Linked DNA regions of Homo sapiens. The protein of the gene in region 2 interacts with the protein of the main gene of each other region in a biochemical or structural test. Each region holds a gene or a part of one and is shown on either strand. Other genes may lie near its edges.

What was found.
Region 1: the proteins of USP22 (region 2) and ZEB1 form a complex in vitro, tested with the Homo sapiens proteins (one study listed by BioGRID).
Region 3: the proteins of USP22 (region 2) and ATXN7 form a complex in vitro, tested with the Homo sapiens proteins (one study listed by BioGRID).

The regions. Positions count from the first base shown.
Region 1 is NC_000010.11:31,312,602-31,324,087, reverse strand, and holds the start of ZEB1 (zinc finger E-box-binding homeobox 1), read right to left. Parts: upstream 4,873-11,486; 5' UTR 4,854-4,872; coding exon 4,796-4,853; intron 4,574-4,795; exon of another isoform or gene 3,881-4,573; intron 3,806-3,880; exon of another isoform or gene 3,641-3,805; intron 3,535-3,640; exon of another isoform or gene 3,390-3,534; intron 2,888-3,389; exon of another isoform or gene 2,563-2,887; coding exon of another isoform or gene 2,556-2,562; intron 2,429-2,555; exon of another isoform or gene 2,253-2,428; coding exon of another isoform or gene 2,237-2,252; intron 1-2,236. UniProt on the Homo sapiens protein: Acts as a transcriptional repressor. Inhibits interleukin-2 (IL-2) gene expression. Enhances or represses the promoter activity of the ATP1A1 gene depending on the quantity of cDNA and on the cell type.
Region 2 is NC_000017.11:21,031,454-21,042,543, forward strand, and holds part of USP22 (ubiquitin carboxyl-terminal hydrolase 22), read right to left. Parts: intron 1-11,090. UniProt on the Homo sapiens protein: Deubiquitinase that plays a role in several cellular processes including transcriptional regulation, cell cycle progression or innate immunity.
Region 3 is NC_000003.12:63,999,867-64,008,052, reverse strand, and holds the end of ATXN7 (ataxin-7), read right to left. Parts: 3' UTR 4,591-8,186; downstream 1-4,590. UniProt on the Homo sapiens protein: Acts as a component of the SAGA (aka STAGA) transcription coactivator-HAT complex. Mediates the interaction of SAGA complex with the CRX and is involved in CRX-dependent gene activation.

The DNA.
Region 1 (11,486 bases), on a different chromosome or scaffold from region 2:
ATTTAAGTGAATCACACCTATTCACTACTGAGCCCTCAGGAATTAGAATACTAAATTCAAGAAATACCTGTCAGGAAATGAAAAACTATTTACACACACACACACACACACACACACACACACGAAGAACCATGACATCCTAAAATAAGAAATTAACACAGGCTTACCTGGCAATTCAATACCTACTTAGTTCAAGATAAACAGTATGGCTATTCCATTACGGTACTGATATTGATGCATTTATAAAAACACCACTAAAAATAATTAAGGAAATAAATACTTCTAATGTTCTACCTAATGAGAGGCTTAAAATTTACAGTTATATTAATATACCTATAAGAACACAAAATGAAAAGACATAACTAAATACAGTCTCATGCAATTATTTATATGCAATTTATATAGTTTCTTGAAAGGAATTATTTAAATACAAGCATACAGCAACGTACGAACTACAGAGTTTTACTGCATATAAGATCTCAAAGCAAACTTATATTCCTTAATTACAACTGACAAATTTAAAACGTATGCACTCACTGATTCTTAACTAAAAAGGTGGGGGAGGGCTACCAGTAGGAAAAGACCTGAAGGGGAAGGAAAAGATAAAATCTAAAAATCACTAACATCTAAGTGACTGCTAGTTACCACCTCCGTTAGTAGCTCTCTGCCAACCCATCCATAGTCTAAGTCTACATAAGTTATATAAAAATAATTACACAGTATTATCAATCAATTGTAATTTTCCTTGCTACTCTTAAACTTTGACCATTTTAGATGTATTTTAACATCTAAAATATATATTTTAAGGGATCTTACTATGAATTTTAAAAAGGGGTGATTAAAAAGTATTCTAAATATGCAACATAAATATGGGTCAATTATTACATATTCTTCTCCAAACCTAAGAACATAAAACAAAATCTTTTTAAAATAAGGAGTAATACAACTGCTCTAAAACAAGAATGAATTAACAGCAATCTCAATTAGAGACTTAAATAACTCAAATTTATAAAATTATTCAAGTTAAAACAGTCCTGCTTCTTTCTAGTTTCGGCAAACTAGAAAATGCTTATGCCTAATTTAACCAAGGCTAGTTTTAAGTAACAATAAGACTCAGAATTATACTGAAGGTCCCAATCAGCACAGTCGATAGAGAGACTTATGATGCTACCACACCAATAATCATTTTTGTTAGCATCCTCTACTGGTGGTTTCCAATGACAGCAAGGGGAAATGGTGCTGATGACAGAAGGATATGTACCTTCTATTCCATCTAAAGAGAATTAATCAGCATGTGGTCATTAGTAGAGTACATCTCTCTCTCAAAAAAAAAAAAGGTAGAACAAGAAGAAAACCACATAGAAGAAAGCAGAAAAAGAAAAAGACAGATTTTTTAAAATGCAACAAAGCATGAAATTATAAATGGTAAAAACTAATTCAAGCAATTCTAATGTCACTCCTTTACGGATGACTAACATCATTAAGTTACCACACAAGGTTTGATGCTTTGGCCAAACCTTACTCAATTGGTTTACCCCTGTCAGTTACATTACCTGATACTCCTTTTAATATCCTACCTTCAGACATATTCCAGAAAGGAAATTAAAATATTTTACAGAAGGCTTAGCAGCAAAATCCACGTATCTTATTTCAAAATGAATAAAACATTATTTACATATATAACAACATAAACTATCTCTACGACAATCTTCCACTGTATATATCACATATTTCTTCATTAAAAAGATTTGAGAGTTAACGTTTTGCCAGGCAATTTTCTCCAATAAACATCTGCAACTTAAATATGACTGCACTGCTAAGAAATATTAACCAGCACATATACTGAGGTTTCACAACACAATGGAATATAACTTCATTTTTAATTTGCAAAATATAAGGCTAAATCAAATAGCATGGCTATAATCACCAGCAATGGATGAAATGCATTTGAGAACAAAAAGAAATACAAGGACAGAGCCAAAAGTGATGAAAATGGAAGATACCTGTAGTAGTACAGTGCTATCTTAAACACCTTTTGTTTTCTGAGAGTAATGCATACTGCAGACAAGACGTTTTGTGCTAAACAGACGCAAATCTGTTTTTCTAATATTAAACACAAAGGAAAAACACTGACAGCAAGCGTGGTAAATAAATCCCTCCCTTGAGAATGAAAGCAGCAGACAGGAGGGGGCTGACATACATGCAGGAGAAAACTAAACACCATCTTTTTTTCTACCTGCACAAGTTGCCATTTGCTGCAGCGATCAAGAACCTCTCTTTCCTGTTGATTTCAAGTATCTTTCAGGATCGCTTTTCCCCCCTTAAGTCATCTGTTGATATGCCTTACGAGTGTAATATTCATATCACAGGATCTCAAGGAGAAAAATCCATTCTTTCCTGTTCAGGTAAACATGTTTACAGCAGCTGCACAGACGCTGGGTGGTTCAGACTCACATGTCACACACATGTCGTCAGCAACAAGAAAAGCCCCTTTCTCTGGCGATCAACATTTTAAATAAGGTAAAAAGCGAACAGCTCTTTCCGAACCAACTTACCTTTCATAAAGCCACATCAGCAACAGCGGCAACAGCTCAATATGGAACACACACTATTTGACGCTAAAACAGGAAATTAAAATTGCAATAGCCTATGCTCCACTCCTTGCTATAACAAGTCATCTCTCCACAATGAGAATACCAAAATACCTTTCGTTTATAATCAACAGACGTCTTTAAAATGCAAGTGTTTATTTGAATAATTAAAATCACGAAAGCAGTGATTTTAATGATGGCTCGAATATATTAAAAATATAATTATGGATTGGAAGGAAACATCTTGAAACAGCTTAAAAATCTTCGTATCTGCTTCTAGACAGGAAATCCCACACAAAATCTAAAATTGCCAGGAAAGGTTACAAAACCTCGCGTTTCGCATCCCAGAGGGGAGGGAGAAAGGGAGCCCAGGCGCGGGGGGTGGGGCTGGGGGAGCACGAGAGAGTTTTCTCCTAAACACGTATTTCCTCGTTTTCTCGACGCTGCAGCGGTCCCATTATAGACGCATTTATTGCCCCTCTCTTAAAAGTCGTTTTAAAAATAACGCAGGAACCAAAGCGAGCCCCTCGGTCCGAAATGTACGTGTAATTCCTTATATAGCCTGGGCTGCGGCCGGCGGCAGGGCCGTTGCCGCCCATTATTATACAAACAGGTACCGGGGCGGCGCAGGCGGGGGCTGCTCTCCCTGCGCTCCCGCCGCCCCCGGGCGGACAAGTCTCGCCCCTCTCGCCACAGGAACTGTCCAGACAATAACAATCAGCAGACATTTCGCTGCTGCACGAGAGGGAGAGAAAGCATAGCATCGCCCCGAGATAACCAGAAATACAATCAACTTACAACGTCTCTCCAAACTGGAAAAGGCGACTGTGCAACCACCACCACATGTTCAGGTCTCGATCCCTCGGGCTGTCTCTCTTTTTTTTTAACTCTCACGCCAGGCAGAGGGGTGTGTGTTTCCCTTGGCACAGCAGCACAAATCAATAAACACTGCAGCTGCGGTGCAAGTAGCAGCCCCGCGCGTCCGTCGGTCCGTCCGCCCCCTCCCCCACCCTCCTTCCACCCGAGACCCAGAGCGCCATCCAAGCCCCATTATCCGGCTTCAGCGCTCCGTGCGTCCGGCCCAGGTAACAACTTCCCCAAAAACCGAAAGAGAAAAGCGCGAGGCGCACGCACACCGGCCCATCCCGGCGCAGAGACCTCGTCTGCCCCGGGAGGGGGATCTGTCTGTGGTGCTTCCCGGTCTCTAAGCCCAGGTAACAACTCCGCAAACACACCCGCCGCCCAGCTCGCCCCCATCCGCGCGGCTCCCGGCGGCGTTAAGTGGGTACCTTTCCTGCCTTGTTCCCCGCGCCGCCCCGCCGCGCCCCGCCAAACGTGGACCCCACTCGCGGGGCTCGCCGCGGAGTCCCCAGGCCGGGGCTCTGGGCCGGGCAGCGGGAGGCGCCAGGGAGGAGGGGCGCTTAGGGACCCGCGCCCCCGCGCCTCTAATCCCCGTTACGCGAGCGCGCCCGGCCCGCGGGTCCCAACTTTACCGCCGCCGGCCGAACCCTGTCCGCCCGCGGCGCGCACAGCCGGCGCCCGCGCACACGCGCGCACAAACCCCACGCAACCCGCGGCCGCCCCGTCCCGCCGCCGCCGCAGCCCGCCTGCCGCGCGCCCACAGCCCGGCCCGAGTCGCGGGGCCCGAGCGACAGCGACGGCGCCGGCCGGGGCCGCGGCGCGCGGAAGCCACTTTGCACGGTCAGCGCCGGGCACAAGTTTGTTCCGCGGCTCCCGGGGGCCTGGGCGCTGAGGGAGAATCGCGCTGAGGGGGCCAGGAGGAGGGGGAGAGGGAGGCGCCGAAGGGCACAAGAGTGGGGAAAAGTGCGGAAAGAAGCAACAGCCGCTCCACCCGGGACCAGAAAAGTGGCCAGTGCGTCCCGGCCGCCCGCCCTGCGCCGGGGATGCGGCGGCGTCGGCGCCGGCTAACGGTCCAGGGAGGCGGCAGGGGCGGCGGGAGCCGCTAGGCGGAGAGAGACCAGGTAAGAGACATAACGGTTCAGGGAGAGCGAGCGGCCGCGGCGCGGCTCCGGCAGCGGCGGCAGCGGAGGGGGGCAGAGAGCACTACTTTCTACTTTCCCACTCCACTTTGCCGTCCCTGCCCCGGCTGCCCCCAGCCCGGCTCGCCCCCCTCACCCCCGGGGGCGCCCCGGCTGCCCAGCTCCCCCTGACTCCGCCGCTCCCCGGTCCCCTCCGCCACTCACCGTTATTGCGCCGCGGGTTCGCCTGCTTTCTGCGCTTACACCTGGGGCCATCCGCCATGATCCTCTCGCTTGTGTCTAAATGCTCGAGTCACCTCCTCCCCCTCCCTCCCCCTTCCCCCCCACCCCTCCGCCTCCACCCCTCCCCCCTCCCCACCGCACCTGGTTTACGACACTCCCGGCTTTACGACATCACCTTCCTTACACCTAGAGGCTCTCGCTCTACGGCCGGAACCTTGTTGCTAGGGACCGGGCGGTTTGCGGCAACCGTGGGCACTGCTGAATTTGAATTGAGGGGCGAGGGAAAAGTTTTCCTCAGGTGTGGTGGGGAGAGGGAGGCGGATGCCGGGAAACCGTAGGGACGCGGTCAGAAAGGCGACGGGCTGTCGGAGTTGGAAAGGTAAAGTTGGAGGCTCGGCGGCGTCCTGCCTCCGCGCTGGCCACACCCGCCGCGGCTGCCCGGGGCAGGGAGGGATCTGGCTGATTCTCCCTGTACCCTGTGCCCTCGGAGCTGCCCCTCCGAGCGCCCAGAGGTCCCCGCCTGCCTGCTTCCTGGAGGCAGGGCTACCATCAGTCCCACGCCTCGCGTGTCCGCCCCCCGCACCCCGGGGCCAAGGAAAGGGATCGCGGTCTGGACTCCCCGGGGAGTTCCCTTGATGAGGGGAAGGGCAGGTTTGGGGACGGCGAGGACACGCGGCGACCGGAGAGAGGCTACCTGACCCGCGCAGCCCGGACTCCCTTCCCTTCCCTTCCAGGGACGCCTGGTTTCCCCCCAAGCGAACCGGGATGGGAAGTGACTTCAATGAGATTGAACTTCAGCTGGATTGAAAGAGAGGCTAGAAGTTCCGCTTGCCAGCAGCCTCCTTAGTAGAGCGGAATGAGTAATACCCACACGGTGCTTGTCTCACTTCCCCATCCGCACCCGGCCCTCACCTGCTGTCACCTCGGCCTCCCACACCCGGTCCGCGCTCCCCGCCCTCTTCCTCGCGTAGAACCGTGGGATCCTAGGTGGCAGGACTCAGAGCTAAGGTATCCACAGGCCATGAATTCCTTCCTAAATGAGCGGTCATCGCCGTGCAGGACCTTAAGGCAAGAAGCATCGGCTGACAGATGTGATCTCTGAACCTGATAGATTGCTGATTTTATCTTATTTTATCCTTGACTTGGTACAAGTTTTGGGATTTCTGAAAAGACCATACAGATAACCACAAATATCAAGAAAGTCGTCTTCAGTATTAAGTAGAATTTAGATTTAGGTTTCCTTCCTGCTTCCCACCTCCTTCGAATAAGGAAACGTCTTTGGGACCAACTTTATGGAATAAATAAGCTGAGCTGTATTTCAAGTAATATAGTTATAAATTAACAATGTAGCAGTTATTGATAGAGAAATTGAGAAAACTGAAACGTGACCGGAGTATTGGAAATAACGTAGTACATCACCTAGCACAATGACACATAGTAGGTGCTCAATAAATTTATGCTTATAATTTTTGTCACTTCTATGGCAGGATTTTTTTATTAGGTTAAAATTATCTTTTAAACACCTTCCGGAATTTTAGAATATTCATTAATAATGTCTTCAAACCTTTCAACTGAAATAAATTTACAGCTGAAGTCTGATGATTTAAAGTTAGAAAGTTTAATCTTGAATATAAATGAACATTTTCTCTCCCACATTTTCTTGGGCATTTTGAGAAGTAAATGCGTTATTTATTGGTCCATGAAATGTGACTGTAAATATTCTTTGCTATACATTATGTCTATATATCTGCATTCATCCTCAATGCCAAAACTAGAATCATTAGTCTTAATGATCATTTTAAGTACAGGCAGTCCTCGCTTTCCTTGATACCATGTTAACCGAAACTTGTGTATGTCAACACGGTGTCCTTGCTTTGCTTGGTTAAGTGTGAGTTCTTCCTCCCTTTTTTTAAGAGTTGTACAATGTTTTTCAGTCGCCTACCGAATCAGGTCATAGACTATGGAATTGACCCCACCCCACCAACATTTTTACAGCTACCCTGATTTCTGACCAGAAAGGAAAAAAAAACTTTCCAGCTCTATCACACATTTTACCTACTCTTAAACTTAGGAGGTATTACAAATAGCATTTTCTCATGTTCTCTTTCTGGCCTGTACCTCCCTGCTAAGCTTCCTTCAGTGTTCATCCTCACCTCATAGAGAGATGAAGTGAAGAGACAAACAGAAGTCATTTTCTTCCTTACTTTAGTGGTTTCTGGTTTAGTTAGTTTGGGCCAAACTGTGGACAAGTACCTTTTCAGGTAACTTTTTTTTCTTATTTCTATGTCCTCAACACCTAGTGGAGTACGTAGCCAATAGTAGATGCTTAATAAACATTTCTTAAATTAATATTGTTGACCTTTTCTGACCCTGTTCTTGACAGTAAGGTACATAATCTGCCTTCATCCCTTTAGTCCTTAGGAACAGATAAAGTCATGGATATGAAAGTGATCACTGTCATTAATATCCACATTAAAATTGCTCTTGATTTTAGTTTCTCCATAATCATTTTCCCTAAACAATGAACTCTGTTCACCTTTTTTTTTAAAATATGCACAGTGAATATTACTGGTAGCCCAAATCTTCTAACATAAAATTTCCATTTTGTAAAAGCTTCTGATAAGCATATATGTTATGAATTGAATGTTTGATTATTATACTTTAATATTCTTGAAAATATTGATACCTGGACTGGAAAGAAAACAGACAAAAGTAAATCTCAGAATAAATTACTGCTTTAAACATGATGCATGTGTGACGGTTGCTTCTTATCTCTTAAATACAGCTAAAGAATAGGGGAAAAATCTTTAGAATCAATTTATAAAAGAAGATTATTAAAATTTAGGTTTATTCAAATCAAACGGTAGGGGATACTAATATATGACTTTAACATGTATCCTGCATTCTTGGTTTTAGTAATTGTAGTGCTGTCATACAGCATACATTCAATATATATGCTTATTTTTAATATGTCAATGAAATGTTAACACACTGCTTCTACTGAGCACTGGGATTATATATGCTGAAGGGAAGATATTCTAAAAATGAATTTCTATACTATTCCAAATTTACAGGGAAAAATGTAAATGGATAGAATAGTTCCAATACTGAGTTTTTTCTATAAATTTTTCATAAACCCTTTGCACCTATTTGCTTTTCATATATGATTCCTGTATAAATTAGGATAAAATTTGACATAAAATTATCTTAAGTTTAAAATGTAGAGATTTCACGGTGTTCCACATGAAGCATATCATTCCCACATACCTCTTCCAAAACACATTGAGAAGTGCAATGTATAATTCTCTAGTCTTCATCAAAATTTAAAGTTCGTTAATTTCATGGAAGGATAGCATGTAAATGCAACTCTTGAATTCAATACCTAATTTTAATCTTAGAGTTTTTGAAGGAAAAAGAATGTGATACATGTTATCCCTCAAAGTACAGAATGTAGAGGTCCCATAAAGCCGCTACTCAATTCTTGTCTCTGACCATGGCTCCTGACCTACAGTAATTCTGGATTTGCAGTTCACCGTGGAACAAAGGAGGGCAATGGTCATTTCACTGTTGCAGTCTCACCAAATTCTGCAGTCATTGAGTCAGGAAGGAAACATGACTACAGGGTGATGCAGAACCCACAGTTGGCCACAGGACCCATGCCAGCCCTTCGAATACAGCCTCCCAGGAGATATCACAGGGACAAATGTTTTCTCCATACTTCCATGTGATTTTTGTTACATAGTTTACCACAGAATGGTTCTTACCCCTCTGGGGAATGAGGCTCCTATTTTTAATGTAAGTCAATGAAATGTTAACACGTGTAGTTTCTTATTTACGAGGTGATTTTTCAGGAACGTGTGTAATACAGAGATAGATATAAATATATGGAGAAAGATGTTTGCAGGATGTCGGTGAATATCCAAAAAGTAAAACTAGTGTTTTCCATGAAGTCACAGTAATTAAAAAGGATTTCTTTCAAAGGCTGCCTCCATAGAAGTTAGATTGTAGTTTCTATTACTAATATTACTTATGAATATGAATAACATTTAATTTTTTCTACACTTAATTATATGTAGGTAACTTGAGAGGAAGCAACACACATATTTTTGATTTAAGTGAATTTTAATTATTTACCATGATATCAGTGGTCTGATAGCTGGTTTCTACTGCTGTTTTTTCTCTTTTGTATCCACGTATTTCTTTTTTCTGTCATCTTGACTTCTTTTAGCAGCTGATTGATTCTGTTACAGAGTATGGCTGTTTCTTTGACCTACAGTGCTGGTGTTCTGTAAACCACAGATCCTCAGTTACAGTCGTTGCCTCTGAACAGAGGCAAGGATTGAACATCCTTGGTGTACATGCATTTAAAATGTTTGCAATCAGTAACAGGTTTTAGATGTTCTACCATTGTATTAAACTTACATGAGAAAGATGGTGATAAATACCCTGTGTCCAATTATATCCACAACTTTAAGATCCCTGGTCACACCCTTCTCATTCTCTTCAGACCTCAGGCCTCTATTTCTTTTCTCTCTCTCTTTATCCTACTTACATAAATAGATCAGACATTGTGCCCCTCCCCCACTGTTTTACTTTGTAATCATTCCCTTCCTCTGTCTTTCTTTGTGCCCGCTCTGTTTGGATCATTTCCCTTTCTCTTTTTGTTTAAAATTTTTTGAATCGTTCCAACTCTGTGAAATGCTTTGCTTTTTCATATTATCCTTGTTATGCTCTGTCCTTCAAAGTCCATTCTCTGCCTTTCCATGCTCTGCGAGGCTGACTTCTGTGGAAGTCACGTCACCCAGGCTTCTTTGCCCTCTGGTTCCTATTTGGTTTCAGCCAATTTGGAGGCTTTGGCAAATGATCAGAGAAAGGAAAAAGAGAGAGGTCAGGATATTTATTCTATTCCCTGCTGCCTGGCTGTGGCTCTAGCTTCGTTCCTCTACCTGAGGTCCCTGGCTCCTGTCCGACACCCTCATCCCATGGCCACAGGTCTTGCCAAGTTCCAGAAACTGCTTCTTCTCTTTGTGTCTTCAGGCCCAGGGTGGTAATGATTGATTGCTTCATCACTCCTTCCTTTAAAACCTGTCCACACCTCTGTAAATAGTCTCTTCATTAAACTCTCTTCAGAGTATCCTTTGAATGTGCTATATGCTTCCGGCCAGGACCCTGAGTAATATGCGTATAGAAATAAAGCATTTTAACCTTATTTCTTACCAACCAATAATTCTGCTATTTCCATTAATTACAATACTAATGTTAAATGTGATATAAATGTCTTATGTCATTTGTTGAACAAGTATATACTCACGTTCCAATGTATGTACTTGCAAAATCTGGCAAACACTATCACGTAGTAATTATTCAATAACCTATTTGTGGAATGATGGCCTCTGCCTTAATCTAAAATCTAGGCGAGACAACTTTTACATATTTAAAACAATGAGAGAAAAAAATCATACCACAATATTAAGATAGAGCTAATTGTCCCTAATATGTTTCTTCCTCTTTTAAAATTATAGAACTGTCCATTTTTATCACACTTGAAATAATTCTTAGCTGGGTGTGGTGGTTCATGCCTATAATCCCAGTGCTTTGGGAAGCCAAGGCAGGAGGATTGCTTAAGGCCGGGTGTTGGAGCCCAGCCTGGGCAACATAGCAGGATTACTCTCTACAAAAAATTTTAAAATTAGCTAAGCATCGTAAAGCGCACCTACAGTTGCAGCTACTCAAGAAGCTGAGGCAGGAGGATGACTTGAGCCCAGGAGTTCAAGGGTGAAGTGAGCTCTGATCACACAACTGCACTTCAGCCAGGGCAACAGAGTGAGACCTGCCTCTAGGAAAAAAAAAATGGTTCTGTTTCTCTTCTTGTATGTATCTAGGTCTCACTATGCTACTTAGTTCTGGCCAAAGAGATGTAAGTGGTGTGCACAACATTGACAAAGATCTTCAAAAACAGATGCTTCACCATCCTTTCCCTTCCTCCTGTGGATTGAAATCCTGCTAGATTTTCTCAACTTGGGCAGAGCTGTCTAGAGCTCCTTAAGTTATGCAGAGCAAAAAGACTGAAGGAGCCTGAGTCCTTGACACTATGGAATACCATTACCAGCCCTGGACTTCCTCCTCCAGATTTCTCTTTCTCTTAGAAAGAAACAAATATACCTCTTGCTTCAGCTGCCATTCTCTTAGGTTTTCTGTCATATGCAGCCAAAGTTAATCCTGTTCCATGTGGGAATGTGTATTTGTTTCCTATTGCTGCTGTTAAAAATTACCACAAACTTAGTGGATTAAAACAACATAAATCGGCCAGGCTCAGTGGCTCACACCTTTAATCCCAGCACTTTGGGAGGCCGAGGTTGGCGGATCGCTTGAGCTCAATAGTTCGAGACCAGCCAGGCAACATGGTGAAACCCTATCTCTACAAAAGGTACAAAAATTAGCTGAGCATGGTGGCACAGGCCTGTAATTCCAGCTACCTGGGAGGCTGAGGTGGGAAGATGACTTGAGCCCAGGAGGTGGAGGCTGCAGTGAGCCATGTTTGCACCACTGCATTCCAGTTTGGGCAACAGAGACCTGTCTCCAAAAAAAAATTGTTTTAATTAAAAGAAAAGTAAATGTATTATCTTACTATTTTGGAAGTGAGAAGTCCAAAGCAGGTCTCACAAGACTCAAA
Region 2 (11,090 bases):
TACACAACCTAGGACTGTGCTACACACTCCATTATAGTCTCTCTCTACTACACAACCTAGGACTATGCTACACACTCCATTATAGTCTATCTCTACTACACAACCTAGGACTGTGCTACACACTCCATTATAGTCTCTCTCTACTACACAACCTAGGACTGTGCTACACACTCCATTATAGTCTCTCTCTACTACACAACCTAGGACTGTGCTACACACTCCATTATAGTCTCTCTCTACTACACAACCTAGGACTGTGCTACACACTCCATTATAGTCTATCTCTACTACACAACCTAGGACTGTGCTACACACTCCATTATGGTCTATCTCTACTACACAACCTAGGATGCTCCCCTGCACGGGTTTACCAATCACCAGGGAAGACACATTTTACAGGCCTTATGGAGCCAACACAGCTAAGAGACAGCTTCTCCAACATTATTCAAGCAGCCAACCAACAAGACAACTGGCGCTAAATACAGAAAACAGCTGTCTCTGACATACTGATAAAACCTCAATCTTATGTCTGGTATAGTCACACACCACATAGCAATGTTTCAGTGAATGACAGGCTGCATGTACAATGGCGGTCCCAGAAGATTATAGTATCATATTTTTACTGTAACCTTCTCTATGTTTAGCTATAGAAACACAAATGCTTACAACCGTCTTTCAACTGCCTACAGTGTTCAGTACGGTACGTGCTGTACAGGTTTGCTGCCTAGGAGCAACAGGCTCCATCTCACACAGCCTGGGTGTGCAGCAGGCTGTACCATCTAGCTTTGTGTTAAGTCACTCCATGATGTTCACACAAAGACAAAATCGCCTAACAATGCATTTCTCAGAATGTATCCTGTTGTTAAACAATGCCAACACTGCATTATTATTTTTCCCCAATCTACACTGTGGAACAGCACGTCCATTGATAATACTGTATCAGATTTAAATGTAACAGAGGCAGACACAGGAGTAAGGTAGCACATGTCTTCCAGTGTCTGGAGGAGGCCAGGAATAGCCTCTGGAGTGGCTACCCTGCAAACACTTTATTTTGGACGTCCAGTCTCATAATTTGAGATGAAATTTCTGTTGTTCTAAGTTAATCGGTTTGTGGTGGTTTGTTACAGCAGGCCCGGTCACTCACATGGGGTTCACATTCATTTTTATTCTATCTCCTTTCACAGCACTGTAAAGTAGAAAACACAGCCAGGCGTGTTGGCTCACGCCAGGAATGCAGCACTTTGGGAGGCCGAGGTGGGAGGACAGCTTGAGGCCAGGAGTTCAAGACCAGCCTGGGCCAAATGGTGAAACCTCATCTCTACAAAAAATGCAAAAATTAGCTGGGCATGGTGGCACACACCTGTAGTCCCAGTTACTCAGGATGGTTTGAGCCCAGGAGGTCAAGGCTGCAGTGAGCCAAGATCGCACCACTGCCCTCTAGCCTGAGCAACAGAACCAGACCCTGTCTCAAAAAAAAAAAAAAAAAAAAAAAAAAAAAAAGTTGAAAATGCATTCCCCAGGCACCCTTGCAGCTCATGTTCCAAACATATCTTGAGACACATTTGCAGACGATGCGGTTGGTGAGTAAGCTAAGGAGAGAGGCCCAGTGGGGGCATCCACAGGCTGACATGGACCGTGGAGGGGTGGCACTGTTTAAGCAGCCCAGCACACCACTTTCTGGTGTGGTGGCTCCTGCAGAGGCAGGATTCCCCAGGCTGGCGGGTTTTCCTAGAAATTCAACCTAGAATCTACTACTCCATAGCCCTTGCAATGATTTCTGAATTAAATCCTTTTCTCCTATAAATTAATTCAAGTAGATTCAGTAGACTGCAAGCAAATCCTGAAACATAACTAGGATTTGTATGTGACAGGAATTAGAAGAGGATCAATTATTTAATTGTTGTTGATCTTATGCAGTACAGAAACACCCTGCCAAATTCATTAATTTGGTCCCGATATTAAGAATATTCCTCTGAATATCCTGTCCTCTTATCTCCCCACTCACACTACCTCCCACCCCAAGAAGGATGCGGAGGAGCAAGAGGGGCAGAGCCCTTGTAGTCAACCAGACTTACCCTATGGGATGACTCAACAGTACACTGAATTTTGAGTCCAGCTTTTAAAAGTGTGCAAACATGACACACCACCTTAAGAGCTAGTGCACTTTTCACACATTACCCATGACTTCCTACTGGTCTAAAACCTGAGCATCTTAGGAAGGTAAGTTTAATTCTTGTGCATTCTCTTCAGTGACTTTTTCAAGGACTCAAACACTGACATAAGTGAAGGGACAGGTATAATTTTTTTTTTTTTTGAGAAGGAGTCTTGCTCTGTCACCAGGCTGGAGTGCAGTGGCGTAATCTCCGCTAACTGCAACCTCCGCCTCCCGGGTTCAAGTGATTCCCCTGCCTCAGCCTCCCGAGTATCTGGGACTACGGGCGCGTGCCACCATGCTCGGCTAACTTTTTGTATTTTAGTACAGATGAGGTTTCACCATGTTGGCCAGGATGGTCTTGAACTACTGACCTCAAGTGATCCACCCACCTCAGCCTCCCAAAGTGCTGGGATTACAGGCATGAGCCACCGTGCCCGGCCTAAATATTCTATCCTTTATATGAAAAAAAAAATACGGCACTAAAAAGCTAAAGACTTTGCCAAAATTAGATAATCTTCTCAAATTAAGTTCCCCAACCTCAAAAACCTCAGCTTCCAGACTCAGGCCCCTCAATCTCGGAGCCAAAATCAATCTAAGGGTACAGCGACTCCAGACCTTTCAATTTACAGAAGGGGTAATTTCATTCAGCAAAGGCAAGACCTCAGACTGACCTCATTTCAAGGCTGGGACCCAGCAGTTGCCGGTGATGTCCTTGGACAGGTCAGGAGACTTACTTGCCAGGCCTACCTAAAAAGTGTATCCCAACTACCAAAACCAGAAGGAAATTACGTATGAAATATAAAATATCACAGCAGTCCTCCCTTACCTACAGTTCCGCTTGCTGTGGTTTCAGTTACCCACAGTCAACCTCAGTCTGAAAATAGTAACATGGAAATGCCAGAAATAAACAATTCATAAGCTTTAAACTGCCCGCCGTTCTGAGAAACATGATGAAACTGAGTGACATCCCGCTCTGTCCCATGACCATCCCTTTGTCCAGCTTCTCCGTGCCATCTAGGCCACCTGCCCGTTAAGTCACTTGGTAGCTGTCTTGCTGATCACATCAACTGTTGCGGATGTGATCACGGATAAAAGTGAACACAAGCCACTTTTATTTGGCTTAATATGGCCCCAAAGCTCAAGAGTACTGATGCTGCAATTTGGATATGCCAAAGAAAAGCCATAAAGGGCTTCTTTTACGTGAAAAGGTAAAAATTCTTAATAAGAAAACAATATCAAATAACAAGGTTGCTAAGATCTACAGTAAGAACAAATCTATCCATGAAATTATGAAGGAAAAAAGTTTGCACGTAATACAAATGGGGTTCAGTATTATCTGTGGTTTCAGACAACTACCGGAGGTCTTGGAATGTATCCCTCAAGGATGGGGGTGAGTACTCTATTATCATAAACAGGAAATGAGGAAGCCCAAGAGATGCTGTGCTGAGGGACACACACTTGGACGGAAGCAAACTGGGGCAAAATCCTCCTGGTACTGACCAGCTTAGGCTAGTCTTCCTTTAAATTGAGCTCACCTCACACAACTGTCAATTACACATGTATGGGGAGCAATCACATTATCCTAAAGCCTCATTTTAATCTACCATTCTCACTTAATTCTCTGAGTTTCTTACCAGAGCTGCTAACATATAATAATAAAACTCACACTCAATTCTATCTCAATTTCTACTCTTCAGCACCCTCTGCTACAGGTACTGGCCAACATAAAACAAGAGGCAAGAAAAAGACTCACATATCCATTAGGCGGGTCATTTTAATCCTTGAAAACTGAGTTTACTTCCTACCTAAGCTTCCATCCGCTTAATACCAAGGTGATCAAGTCTGTGTGCTAAATACAGGAAAAGCCTTAATAGGAGACCCTGCTACCAATTTGTAGGAAATAGGACAAAAAAAAAACAAACCACAACACTTTGAACTTCCACTGTTGAGTATGCAAACAGCAAAATCCAGACTATAGGGAAGTCAACAAGTCACAAGGCCCAAGTTTTTCAACAGATAAAGTAGAAGCAAAAAACTGTAAGAAAGGAATGAAGAGAGAACCTACAGATTAAGAAACTTAAACGACTTACCAGTATAGCCACATGATAAATACCATTAAAAGAAAAAGGAATGAACTTTCGGCTGGGCGCGGTGGCTCACGCCTGTAATCCCAGCACTTCGGGAGGCTGAGGCAGACAGATCACAAGGTCAGGAGATCGAGACCATCCTGGCTAACACAGTGAAACCCAGTCTCTACTAAAAATACAAAAAAATTAGCTGGGCGTGGTGGCAGGCGCCTGTAGTCCCAGTTACTCGGGAGGCTGAGGCAAGAGAATGGCGTGAACCCAGGAGGCGGAGCTTGCAGTGAGCCGAGATCGCACCACTGCACTCCAGCCTGGGCGACAGAGCAAGACTCCGTCTCAAAAAAAAAAAAAAAAAAAAAAAAAGGAATGAACTTTCAATCCACTCAATGGATACAATGGATATTGCTAGACAAAAGAAGCCAGTATGAAAAGGCTACAGACTGTATGAACCCAATGATATGACATTCTGGAAAGGGAAAAACCTCCGAGATGGAGACGAGACCAGTGGTTGTGGAGAGTTAGAAGGTGAAGCACAGGGATTTCTTGGGGCAGTGCAACTGTTCTGTACAGTACTGTAGTTGTGGATGCCTCTGTCAAAATCCACTGAGCTTTAAAGCACAAAGAGCAAACCTTAATATATGCGATTTTAAAAATAACTGATGAGGCCCTATGGAATGCAGGCTGAGGCAGAAGAAACCAATTGTATTACACATATAGGACACAACTCCGCCAAGAGGGGTGGGGAGGGAAGTACCTAAGTAATGTGGAAATGAGGAGGGAGTGTAAGACTAAAAGCAAAAGGAACTGTAACTGAGCACTGTACTGTAAGGGGGGGGGGGGTCAAGTCATTTCCCAAGGGAGTACAGGACAATTCTGAAACCTCTCTTCATGTATACCAAAGCACAACAGGTAAGTAAGTAGATTGTCGACAGTGGGAGCCAGCATTTTCTCTGCTGGACAGAGAAGTTACAGATAAACTGGAGGGGAAGGCTAGAATAATCCCTATAGAAATGGATTAGAGTTGGAGATATAAACATGAACTCATGTAGAGCTTAATAGGGATGCTGATGAATATATATCAAATTACAGACGTGTATATGCACGCATTTGTATATACACACCTGTTTCCCAGCTCTGTCCCTTGAGGGGGCCAAGAAGCCAGGATATCCCAGTAATGATGAACACACCAGTGCCCAGATCTTGAGATCTAATTCCATTCTCCCAAAAAAGAAACTAGGGATCCTTGGAAAATGCTGGAGTCTAAGGCTGGGGCAGAAAACACATAAGATGATCCCAGAACATCGTGTAGTTCCAGAAAGTAAGGAAGTGCTCAAAAACAACGAACAAAAAATAATGTGGCTATGTGAAAGGGACACCGGAGCCAGCTGAAAGAGCTCCCAGTGGATACAGCCAGATGATGGGAGCAACACAACAAACCACACAGCACTGGATGATAACCCAAAGCATACATTCAATATCCACAAGTCCATGTTGATATACACAAATGAATAAACACACGAGTGAGGATCAGCAAATCTTCCATACATAAACGTTCCAAATAATTTAAGTAGCTACTCCATCCTCAAGGAGGAGGAACAGAACTCCCCACCCCGGTAGAGTACCTATGCAGAGTGACTCCCTTCTATTATAAACAGTACATAAAGGAGGGAAAGAGTCACTCCACAGTGGAGAAACCTGGCAAACATGACTTCGGCCATTCAGTCAAGCCCAGCAACCCAAGACATCTTGACAGCATCATCCTTAATTTACGGGAATGAGAAGGGCACTTCATCTCCCTGGTCTTCCTTCCCAAAACTCATAACCACAGCTGAATCATGAGAAAAACATCAGAAAACCAAAACTGAGGGACATTCTACAAACTACATGACCGGGACTCCTCAAAACTCTCAAGGTCACCAAACAGGACAGCCTGAGAAACTGTCACTGTCTAGAAGAGCCCAAGAGGACGTGAAGACTCAAAGTAATGTGGGATTCTGAGACAGAATAAGGACATTACATAAAAACCAATGAGTTCTGAATAAAGTATGCAGTGTAGTTAATGAACTAAATACACAAACACAAATGAGTAGAAGTAAAAGCGGGGAAATCTGAATGAGATGGTGGATTATATTGAAGATAGACTGTATCAATGTCAATATTCTGGTGGTAATTGTACTCCATTTCTGCAAGAAGTTACCCTTAGAGGACTGGGGAAAGATACACAGGATTACTCTATTTTCTTACACCAGTATGTCAATCTACAATGACCTCAAAATTAAAACCTTAAACAGAAAAATGTTTACATTTTAGATCTTTTACTTAGACCCCACTTAGTATGAATGGTGTAATGTTTTGTTGTGATGATTTGAAAGATCCAGTTCACTATAAAATAAAAAGTAAATTCCTCAAAGAAACAAAGTTTTAAAGTATACTTTTAAAATAGCACATATCATCCCAGCACTGTGGGAGGCCGAAGTGAATCTCCTAAGGCCAGGAGTTCAAGACCAGCCTGGGCAACATAGGGAGACTCAGTCTTTTATTTTTTTTTAATAAATAAATAAATACAATAGCACGTATCAGGAAAATGAGCTAGACTATGAAAATAAAAACAAGTAATGAGAGCTCTCTACAATGTGCTCACCACCATCCCAGCACCTGGCTGAGCCAGTAAAGACAGACTGAGGCATTGTTGGATGGCTGGGAGAGGTGGCTCATGCCTGTAATGCCAGCACTTTGGGAGGCCAAGGAGAGAGGATCACTTAGCTCAGAAGTTCAAGACCAGCCTGGGCAACATGGCAAAACTCATGGCTACCAAAAATACAAAAATTAGCCAGGTGCGGTGGCGCATGCCTGTAGTCCCAGCTACTTGGGAGGCTGAGGCAGGAGGATCACTGGACCCCAGGAACTCGAGGCTGCAGTGAGCCATGATCATACCACTGCACTCCAGCCTGAGTGAGAGACAGACCCTGTCTCAAAAAAAAAAAAAATACATAAAAAATAAAAAATTTAAAAAAGTGTTTTGAGGACACAGTGCCATAAAATTTTAGATTCAAAGAGAGAAATGGTTTTAAAAACATTACCTGTTCTCCAAAGTGTCTATATTCAAAATATAATGTAGAATGTTAAATCATAATCACTTCCTGCCAGTTCCTATCTTTACAGACAAACCCTGAAATGGTAAGAAATTTGTTATATTTAACACACACCAAAAACACAAAGGAGACGCCACTGTGGTCGTGCCAGTCCTAAATCATGGAAATAGTTTTTTTCTTTTTTTTTGAGACGGTCTCGCTCTGTCGCCCAGGCTGGAGTGCAGTGGTGCGATCTCGGCTCACTGCAACCTCCGCCTCCCTGGTTCAAGCGATTCTCCTGCCCCAGCCTCACGAGTAGCTGGGATTACAGGCGCGTGCCACCATGCCCAGCTAATTTTGTGTATTTTTAGTAAAGACATGGTTTCACCGTGTTAGCCAGGATGGTCTCGATCTCCTGACCTCGTGATCCGCCCGCCTCGGCCTCCCAACGTGCTGGGATTACAGGCGTGAGCCACCATGCCCGGCAGAAATATTTTTATAGTCTGCAATACAAGAGTTTTATGGCAATTCGGGCCAGGCGCGGTGGCTCATGCCTGTAATCCCAGCACTTTGGGAGGCCAAGATGGGCGGATCACCTGAGGTTGGGAGTTCGAGACCAGTCTGACCAACATGAAGAAACCCCATCTCTACGAAAAATACAAAATTAGCCAGGCATGGTGGCGCATGCCTGTAATCCCAGCTACTTGGGAGAATCACTTAAACCCTGGAGGGGGAGGCTGTGGTGAGCCGAGATCACGCCATTGCCCTCCAGCCTGGGCAAAAAGAGTGAAAACCCCATCTCAAAAAACAGAGTTTTACTGCAATTCAAGCTTCTTTTGGACAGAAATTTATCAAGCCTGGTCATGTTTTTGTCATGTTCTGCCTGTTAAAAGAAGAATCAAAGTTTGGGTACAAAATGCATAATCCATCTGTCCTTAGATAACAAAACTCGTAATTCCTATTCATTCAGGGATTCATTTCTTTAAACTGTACCTGAGATGTCCATCTCAAAAAGTACCTTTGTTTGTTTACAAAGATTATAATTCAAGTTGAAGTTTGTTTTGAGATAGGTTTTGTTGTCCAGGCTGGAGTACAGTGGCACAATCATCAGCTTAAAGTACTTTTACAGTCAAGTTCATATCATTAAAACCAAAAATATGGCTGGGCTCAGTGGCTCTGGCCTGTAATCCCAGCACTCTGGGAGACAGGAGGATGGCTTGAGTCCAGGAGTTCAAGACCAGCCTGTGCAATATAGTGAGACACTGTCTCTACAAATATTAGCCGGTCGTGGTGACACACGCCCGTAGTCCCAGCTACTCAGGAGAGGCTGGAGTCCAGGAATCTGAGGCTGCAGTGATCACTGACCAGACCATTGCACTCCATCCTGGGTAACAGAGCAAGACTCTGTCTCTACAAAAAATAATTTTTAATAAAATAAAATTTAAAAAACAAAATGTCCTAAGCTTACAGATCTGATGGAAATCCTATGCAGATTGTCCAACTGTTAATCATCAGGTTTGTTAAACTATTTCCCAAACCAACTCTTCCTTAACTGGGCCACTAGAGAGTGCTAGAAATGCAGGACACCGCACATGAAGTGATACAGGTAAATAAGTCCCCCCAGTCAGAGGAAAAAGCATGGAGGGCTTAAGGGCTCCTTGCTGGCACACTGCCAACTGGCACTGCAGCAGCCCCCACCTAAATTTTGAAAGAAATATTTTTCACTACCCGACTACAGTTCAACTTCTAATTGGTGAATAACATACATGTGGCTCAACAGTTTTGAAACTAAGCAACTGACATCTGAAATTAAAAGATTAATCAGAGCCATAAGTAGCGCAAAAAAAAAAAGTAATTCTTAACTTTAGGAAATTAGGCAAAGTTAGTTAATGATGGTTTAAACTTGACTCCTTCTATTTGGTTAAAAAATACCAGAGGGGGGAAGAAAGGGAGAGGGAGGGAGGGAACGGAAAAAGAAAAGGAGGGAGAGGAAGAGTGGGGCGGTCCCCACTTCATCCAAAGTAGTAACAAATCTTGGGCGCGTCACGTCCCAATCCGGACACTACTGACCCAGAGTAGCAACAGCACATTCCCTGTAGAAGACTGGCTTCAACCAGGCCACCCTTTTTTTTTTTTTTCCGGAGGGGGTCTTGCTCTGTCACCCAGTCTGGAGTACAGTGGCGCGATCACTGCTCACTGCAACCTCCGCCTCCCGGGTTGAAGTGATTCTCCTGCCTCAACCTCTGGAGTAGCTGGGATTACAGGCGCCCGCCATCACACCCGGCTACTTTTCGTATTTTTAGTAGAGATGAGGTTTCACCATGTTGGCCAGGCTGGTCTCGAACTCCTGACCTCGTGATCTGCCCCCCTCGGCCTCCCCACGTGCTGGGATTACAGGCGTCAGCCACCGCGCCAAGCCAGGCCATCTTTTCTTAAAGACACACAATTCTACTAGCAAGACTCTAACTCCGATCCTGAAACGTTTTATGTCTGATTTTAGTTCATCCAGACATAACGCTACCTGATACCATTACAGATAAAAAAAATTTTGAGGCCGGGCACGGTGGCTCATGCCTGTAATCCCAACACTTTGGGAGGCAGAGGCGGGTGGATCACCTGAGATCAGGAGTTCCAGACCAGCCTGGCCAACATGGTGAAACCCCGTCTCTACTAAAAATACAAAAATTAGCCGGGCGTGGTAGCAGGAGCCTGTAATCCCAGCTACTCAGGAGGCTGAGGCAGGAGAATCGGCTGAACCCGGGAGGCGGAGATTGTAGTGAGCCGAAATCGCGCCACTGCACTCCAGCCTGGGGTACAAAGCGAGACTTCGTCTCAAAAAAATAATTTTTTTTTTGAATTACTGCTTAACATACCCTACAATCTCAGCGAGCCTGTTGGTATTCCCATAAATAAAAAAATGCCACTCAAGGTGGAAACTGCCCTCACAACTCCCAATCTCGGATTGTAATCTACAAAAGCGCGTGAAACTGTAAAAATAAACTTTATTCACATAGAAGAATCACGTTACGTTTTGATTTCCAAACCCTTACCAAGCCTAACTGCGGGACGCAAGACTGGGCTCCCCGAGGGGACTCACTCCTGGTTAAGGCCTCCCACAGCCCACGGCGCGCTTCCAAGTCTACTCCTCAGCCGCAACGCAAACCCGGGCTGTGGCTCCGCACCCACAGGCTCGCCCCGGCCCCAGCCCCTGCCGCCCTCCACCTCCAGCTCCTCGCGGGCCCCGAGGCAGCCGCGAAGCTCCGGCCCCGCGCCCCCCAGCCCGCCTCCTGCCCCAGCTCCCGTCCAAGGTCGCTCCTGGCGGCGGGTGACCGCTGCAGACCAACGCCCAGAACTCGACAGCCCCCCATCCTTTACTCATTTTTTTGAAATATTTCTTTCTCTGCACCCGCATCCAGCCCCGAACCCTCCAGAACCAGGAGAGTTCCCCGCAAGGACCTCGCGCAGGAACGCCCGGGACCGCCCACCGAAGTCCCAGGCTCCCCAGGCAGCAGGGCAGGAGAACACCACCCCCGGCCCGGAAGCACTCGCCCCTCCCGGGCCAAGAAGGATAAGGGAGGGGGAGGGCGGAGAGAAAGGAGGGGGAGGGGACAGAGAGGAGGGGGAGGGGACAGAGAGGAGGGGGAGGGAAAGGAAGAATGGGGGAAGGGGGGAGAGGGGAAGGATAGGAAGATGAGGAGATAAGGGAAGGGAGAGAGTTGAGGGGGGAAGGAAAGGAGGGGGAAGGGGTAAAGAGAAGAGAGGGCAGAAGGAGAGAGGAAG
Region 3 (8,186 bases), on a different chromosome or scaffold from region 2:
GCTATGTCAAATTATGGTAATCTATTTCCTGTATTAGAAATAACAGCTTTAGGTCAATTTTTAAGCTATTAAAAAACAGTGTCTCTTAGGACAGAAACAGTGTAAAAACCACTTTTGTTAAGCACCCAACTTTTACCTGCCCCAGATGGCTAGAAGGATGCCTACAACTTGATCACTAAGCATGCAATACTCAATACACTTAGGATTTTGTGACTGAACACATTTGGTCTTTTATAACCTGACCAAACATTAACTGATAAAAGGCTACTAAATCATTAGCAAATCATTTCTGTAATTTCATATTCTGAATTAGTCCTTGGTGCTGCTGTTAACCTAATGTTTTTAAGATGAACAGCTGACAGCTGAAATATCTGCCCCCATGATTATGGGGGAAAAAGCGTGGAGGGAACTATGATAATCCCTGACCTTCCCAATGCTACATAAACTTGTAGTTGCTGGTAACAAACCTGTGCCTCCACAATGGCAATGGGGGAGTGGGGTAAAATCCCCATCTGGATAACATGAAAAGCTCTGATAATCACTAGTTTTGGTTTCAAAGCTGTAGAGCCACAGATTTGCATTATGCTTGTGTTTCTGAAGGAATACAAAGGCTATCAGGAATTTGTAGCAATCTGATCCAGGCCATTTTAACCTTGACATACATGGTCAAAGGGTATAACCTTTTTTTTTTTTTTTTTTTTTTCCCCATTTAAAAATATCTTACAGTGGCATAACTTTCCCTGTACAAATTGGGTTTAAGAAACAAAAGGGACAATTTGCTAATCAATGATGAGCCTTTAATCCAACCATTATATATCCCCTTTCCATCCTTAGATCCCTTGAAGAGACCATTTAGTTAAGACTACCAACAGGTGACACCCTGACCTCCTTACCAACCTTGCCTTTTAGAGGTGACCAGAGACCTGTGCTTTTCCAAAGTACTGTTATACGTGTAATTAGTATAATATCAATGTGGGGAAACTCTACCTTTGGATTTTGAGGACTCTGCTTTTCTTGAAACCCTCTGGGTTAGAGACTGTTTATTCATATGCACCTCAGGAACTTGAGGCCAAGATGAAGTTCACTGTTTCCTAGTCCTTTGCTTGTTCTCCTGGCCATTATGTTTCCACCTTCATTCAAAATGCCTTCTCTTTGAAGCTGCTTATAACCCAGCAACACCATCAACTCACTGTGCTCACTGTCCTCAATCACACATCTCCAAGTCACTCTCCCCTCTTCCATGCAAATCATCCCAGAACCAAGCAACCCTAATTTGAAATGGACAACCTATACAACACCCTTGGCTTCACAGTTCCTCAGCCTGAATTCCAGTGCTCTTTTCCTCCATGCTGCTTCTGTCCACTGCCATGGTTTCCACCCAGGAATCACAAGCACCTCTGGCCAGTTCTGCTTTTGAAAATAATACTGGAATTCCAATTCCTCTGGCCAGTTCTGCTTTTGAAAGTAATACTGGAATTCCAATTCCTCCATTCCCTGTCCTATTCCTAAAAGTGCTGTATCACTTTGATAACTCTGGCCCCTGGATCTCACCTTGTAGCCCCTCACTTTTATTGGCCATGTGGAATTAAATGTGGACTTTGCTCTGTGACCCTGAACAAATCAATTGTCTAATCATAGAAAAAGTTACCTGGAAGGAGATTCCTAAGACCTAACAAGAAGATAATTCCAGTCAAACCAATGTCTTAAGAGCACCTGCATAGATTCTACATGGTTGGCTTCTAGTTCTCTTCCCTGAATACCCAGTTCAGACCATCATCAATCACTCAGCCACATCTTCACTCTTTGGCAATCTCCCTGCTCAAGTTCTATCTTTTCCACCCAACCAATACATGCTGTTCCAATTATCCTGGAGAAAACAGCAGGGCAATAAAACGTTAACTAAATAGGTAGATAGCATTGGTAATTATAATGGGATTGACTCAAAACATCTAACCCTGTAAACCATCTCAATGCCTTCCCTTACCTCTCTTTTTACTCTACTGCTCCTTCTCCATTTGTCTTCATGAAAATAGTCTTCTCCAAGGTTTTGTCCTGGGTTTTCTCTCTGGGCCATGGAGGATGGGCTTCAGGTTTGTGATATCCTGGAAGCGGAATATAAAAATGTGGTGTGCCTGTGCCTCGGTCAGACAGGATGCATAACTTCATGTGACTCCTGGAGTCTGAGGAGGGAAAAAATTAAGAATCACTGTTCTGACAGACCTGAATTACCCTGGATCTGCCACCTATTCGTTGTGGGACCTTAAGCAAGATACCTTCTTAGGAGTTCCAATCAGTATGATTGGAATCAAAATACCTGCCCTATGAGGGCTTAGTAAAAGAGAGGATGTATATAAAATGCTTGGCACAGTATCTGGCATATTAAGTACTTCACTAGAGAAGTATTATTTTAACATAATAATAAGCCAAATCGAATAGCTACTTAATTTTCCCAGGTAAACTCCATCTACCCTTATGACCTCACTGATGATCTAAAACTGAAAGACAACTCTCCATCTTTATTTTCCAGCTCAAACCTCCCTCCTAAAGTCCAACCAGCCTGTACAGCCAGCTGGGCACTAAACCAGAATTTCCCACCAGCAGCTCAAATCTATCGTTATGTCTTTTTCCTTCTCTGTTACCATATCGCACATTTCACTTAAAGCTCAATTGGTTTGGCCAAGCTAGAAACCTGAAGTCTTCTTAGACTCACTCTTCCCTTTAATGTTGAACAGAGTTAGACCTCAAGGCTTGTTGGTTCTACTTTTTAAAGATTTCTGAAATCAGTATCACTTATCCTCACAGTCAGCCTTCGTTTGGAAACTTAATAGCTCTTACCTGGATTACAACAGCTTTGTAACTTATTTTTGTCCCAAGGTTCTCACCTGTTGATTCTGTCTTCCATTGTTATTGGAGGGCCATAGGTGGCAGAGATGTTTTTTCCACAAAGTATTAAATTATAAGTGATTCTCCCCTTCCCCCTGGAGACTTTTTCTTTGGCTGATAGCCTCACTCTCCCTTACCTCCTAAGAGATATTCTGGTCCATGGTCTTTGGATGTAGAAAATGAGGATAACAAGTGCCAAGAATTACAGCCTTACAAGGTGAAATACTACTTTAATTAACTTCCATTAACAACAGGAGCAAGAACTTCTTACAGAAAGAGGAGACTAAGAAAGGAGTGAGAAGGGAGAGGAACTTAAGAGTTGATTTAGGGGAGTGCTTTTTGTTAGGACTGGGGACAGGGGCAGGTAAAGACAGATCTTTGAAGCAAAAGAGAGTGAGAATGCAAGACATGGGGAAAGAGACTTAAGTGCTCCTTTGCTTTTCCACAGTTTTCAGTACAGATTTGAATGGCTTTGACTTTTGGCAGCTGCACAGTGCTAGGACTGGACCATGAAATATCTCTGGGCTCTGACAATTACATTTGGGTTAATCTAAGCCTGATCCCATGTGTTCCTGGAAGAGAAGCCCCATGACATTCAAAGTCCTTGACAATCTGACACCAGCTTTTCTAACCCTATAAGGCCCTTCCATCCAGCAAACTTCCTGCAGAATTATTCTCTATCCCTCACATGTTCATACCCATGCTCGACGCATTTGCTCTCTCTGCCTAGAATCTTACTCTTGTCTGCCTTTCTGCCTGGTTAAATCCCACATACGCCAAGATCCAACACTGCTAAACCCCTTTCCTTGAGTTGGGATCATCTTGTTATGCAGGGCCGGGATACCTGCAAGGGAATGGAATTAAAAAGGTTAAGAGATTGAGCAGTTGAACCTTTTCTTGGGAGGTTTGAGGACAAGCCATAGTGAAAGGATTTACCTACAGAGAGCACCTCATTATTAGATTTGTGGAAAGTACTGAGTGGATGGTTGACTCAAGTAAGGAGGGAATGGGAAGTCCACAGGGCAGTAGGAACTGAAGCCAACATGACTCTTTCATATCAGGTATGGACATTCTTGCTAACACACAGCGGTTCCTCCTCTTATTTTAAGCAACAAAAATAATTTATCAGAATGGTTTATTTGCAAACAGTAAAAATGTCTGGATTTCTAGAGGTAAATGATTATGCTGTGTTCCAAATAATACTAAAATGCACTTGTATTGCCAGTAAGGGAGGTATGTAAAAGAAAGGAAGAGATTAGACCGGGTCTGGATAAAAAGCTTATCTTAAACCAAAACTACATGTCATCAAATTTGCACCTAAGTACAAATAGAATGTGTTTCTCAATCCATCAACTCCCTCGTTTCTTTCACAAACATGCAAGGCCAGAATACAGTAATGTTCACTGTTTACACAGTTACTAATTTATCCAAAGCAAAGCTTTGTGCCCCCAGATGGAAACATCCCCAGGCCTTAGAAGTATTTAGCTTATATAAGAGGAAGGCTAAATTGAAGGGGCTTCACAAGGGTGTTCCATGCCAAAAGTGATGAAAAGTCAGAGTAGACTGAAAGGGTTTAGTATCACAACGAGGCAGAAACGTACAATATTTCATGCAGCCAACCTTATTTATTGAGAAGTCCTAATTTTATTGCCCGTTTAGTAACATGTTTGTTCCACAAGCTAATTTCTTATAAAGCAAAGCACAACCTTTTCTTATAAATAGTATAAATTATTTTATTTACAGAAACTTGTTACAAAACAAATAGACTATATATTTCTTCTCTTTTAAATATCCAAAGTAATTTTCTATCCCTTGACATTTGTTCATGTTCTATACAGCAGCCAACACAAAGTCCAGCTGAGATGCTCTTGATTATGTGTACAAATTATCAAACTATTCACACGTTTTTAACACAGGAGATTGCTTTTATAACCAAGCTCAAAAAAAAAAAAAAAAAAAAAAAAGCAAAATGCTTTCAAGGCCCTACATTCACACTGACAGTATGTAGTGCTCATTTAAATTATCTGAAAATGTAAAATGTTTTGCACAAAATGTAAAAGTGATTATTTTCTGCTAAACAAACTTTTAAGAATATTTTTTCAAAGCCCAATCGCCCCAAACCCCCTGGACAGAATGAGCGACATTAAGAAATTCCTTGGCAACAGAACTCTTGCAGGAAGACAGCTGCCCTTATAAGTTACATTTTTCAAATTATACATTTTTTTCAATGTTCTCAGAGGTACTTCTTTGTATTATATTTTTGGAATACAAAATATTTTAAATATTTTAAATTGTATTTCATGAGTGAATAACAAAACGGACACATCGTGTAAGTTGCTGGCTGACAAAAAGATCTGTAACCCTTGGTGCCACCAGGCAATCCATCACCAATTGAATTACTATGAACCAAGAGGTCTTAATTTTAAAATACCTTATAAAATTACCAGCATTGGTGGTTTTCAACTCCGCCCCTAAAATTTTAGAAACAATATTTAGGTGGAAAAAGCAAACTCCAAAAGTTCAACTGAACATTCAAGTCTTTTTAAAGAGATTCTGTCTAAGCTTAAAACTAGTTTCAGGCACTTTCAGTTTTTTCCATTAGTTTTAAACCACATCACATAGTAACATACATGTGCTGAGTATACACACACACGCACAGGCACACACACACGCAGTCACATACTCCCACACATAAAATACTAACAAAAGAAAAGCAGTGTGTCACTTAGTTACATGTAGTCTATCGGGAAACCAGGCAACCAGGAAGAAGCAATGCCCACTTCATCTGTATGAATCCACTCCCGAGACACTAAAAGGGACAAAGACTTTTCACAGAACAGAGGCATCCCTTAAAACTGTAAAGGAGGCAGGTTCTAGAACTATTGGCTTGGCAGTGAACCACTTCAAATTATAAAAAGGTATTTACTTTTATTAATTAATAAATAAATACTAGATGATCTCAATTGTACCAAAACAGGATATCAGAAAAAAAGACCTGTGCAAAAATACATATTTAAATATGTACAATTCATTTTTAACAAAATATGTCTTCTGAAATAGGGATACTTCCATATTTATAATAGAACAAGAAATTCCAAAATAAAGATACAAAAGTAGGTTTTGTATAATTCTTTGTTCATCATTGCAGCACTTTTTTTTTTTTTTTGTAGGTTAAGAAAACTGCAGGAGTTGTCATGAAATTCTATTGGAAAGAATATAAAAATTATCTTGGTTTTAAATTGATACCAAAGTCTGTCTAGAAACAACCCAACCACTGCAAATTTGGTTTTTGCAAGTTAATTTAATTCAAAAAAATACTTGTACTCCCGTGTTTTAAATGGTCTTAATTATTCATCACCATAAAAAGTAGTTTAGGAGAAAATAAAATATTTGAACAACAGTCTAAAATTTAATAGCACTGTTTAGAATAGGTCTGTTTGTGGCAGACAGAATCCAAAATGGCTAATTTCCTAATCCCGATGCTCTGTGTATTACCGGGAGAAATAATGAAATTCATTTAAAACCTCAGTCTAAGAAATCAAATGTTCAATACTTGCTAATCTAAATATCTACATTAGTCTGAATCAACTTGTTATTGTGGATCCTATTCACATCTTTCGGAACAACATGATCGATCTGTAAATTCCATTGCTAAAGGCAACTTTATTTATAACCATCAAGTCCTCTTGGCTCTGAAAATAAATTCTACCCATACCCCATTGCACTTGTCACCAAGGAATCAACTAGGTACGTTCTGATTCCCTCTCACCTCTCTCTTCCCCGACTGGGATGGAAACCAGACTGATTTCTCCCAACTATGCCAAACTGGCCCATCCATGCCCTCTCCTTACTAAGCTCTCCTGTAGTATCATTTTAAAAACATTTACTGATTGATTGCATAATAATTGAACAAGATACTGTTCTCTCCTTCCTTTAAAAAAATCAGTATTTTACATCAATTTATAGCTAAAGTATCTGCATAAAGTTTTTGTTTTCTTACATAATAAGAATAATTCTGTAGCAATTCACATTATTAGGCTGGTAACCAAGTTTATTCATTCTACCTGTTGTTGACTTGAAATTCCCTGAAACTGAAGTTTGAAACCCAAGAACTGTAGGAAAAAAAGAATGTACTGACTGGCTCTCATCAGGCCCTGGCCAGGGCAACGATCAGCGCCTTGGAAATTTTACCCTGTGTTCGGCAACTTCGTGTGTTCTTCTAAGCAACAGTGCCTGTTACTCGTGTCAGGAGCCTGTAGTGGTGGAAGCACCCATTTAAAGGCTCCGGCTCGTCCCGGAATTCAATGACACCTTCTCCAAGCAATGCTGTTTTAACATATTAAGGTCTTTCTTTAGGGGTGGGGGGTGGGGTACTAGAAAAAATATCCTAGAGGGCTCCAAAACTCTCAGGAAGATGGCTGGTATAATCCCAAGAAAGGAGGGTGTGTGTCAGGGCAATCCTATACATGCATCACAAAAGACCTTCAGGTCAGGACTTACATTCTCTCCAACTCCCTTTCCTTGGTGTCTGCTCTCGTCCCCAACCACATCCAAATAAACATCTGAAGTGGCATGAAGGGGAGTGCATACAAAAACACACAATGCCAGAAGTGCTTGAAGCAGAAATCTACACTTAGTCCCAGGACAGTATCCAAAGAGAAAAACAAGGGTAATGTAGAGAGTGCCTTGGAAACATTTAAGTGTATCTAATAATGTCACTTTAAAAGGTGACTTTTAAAAATAGACCAGGTAGGACAACCAACCCAATCTGCCATACTGTTTACTATGAAAACTTAAAAGGATTAAGAAAATTTCATCTCTTTGGAAATCTTGAAAAAAGTTTTTTCTCCCTATAGTGATTTTAACTTCCTCACTCCCACCCTCCCCCGACCCAATTTGGCCTTCCTTTCTCAAAACTAGCTTGCATTTTCTTTCTTCTTAAAAAAAAAAATCACACAGAATTGCTTTTGTATCATGAAAAGTAAGCCTCCAAAATGATTTATACTTGCTGTCTGGGCATCAAAAATTTCAAACCAGTTTGTAAGTTAGAAACTTCTGACAGCTTCTTTTCCCAAATTACTCTCAAAAGGCTGGGCTATTTTGTCATGGTGTCTTGGGCTAACATCTATATTTCATTCCTGGAACATTGCTATCAAAATCTAAAGCCTAATTCCCTTCTTCAGAGGGTTGCTCGGGATGCAGCCCTGTGTTCTCTGGAAGGTTTCTGGTCTCCAGTTAAGGTGCCTAACTGCTGGAGAGTGACCTACAGATGACAGTGTTAAAAAAAAATGGTAGTAAAAGGA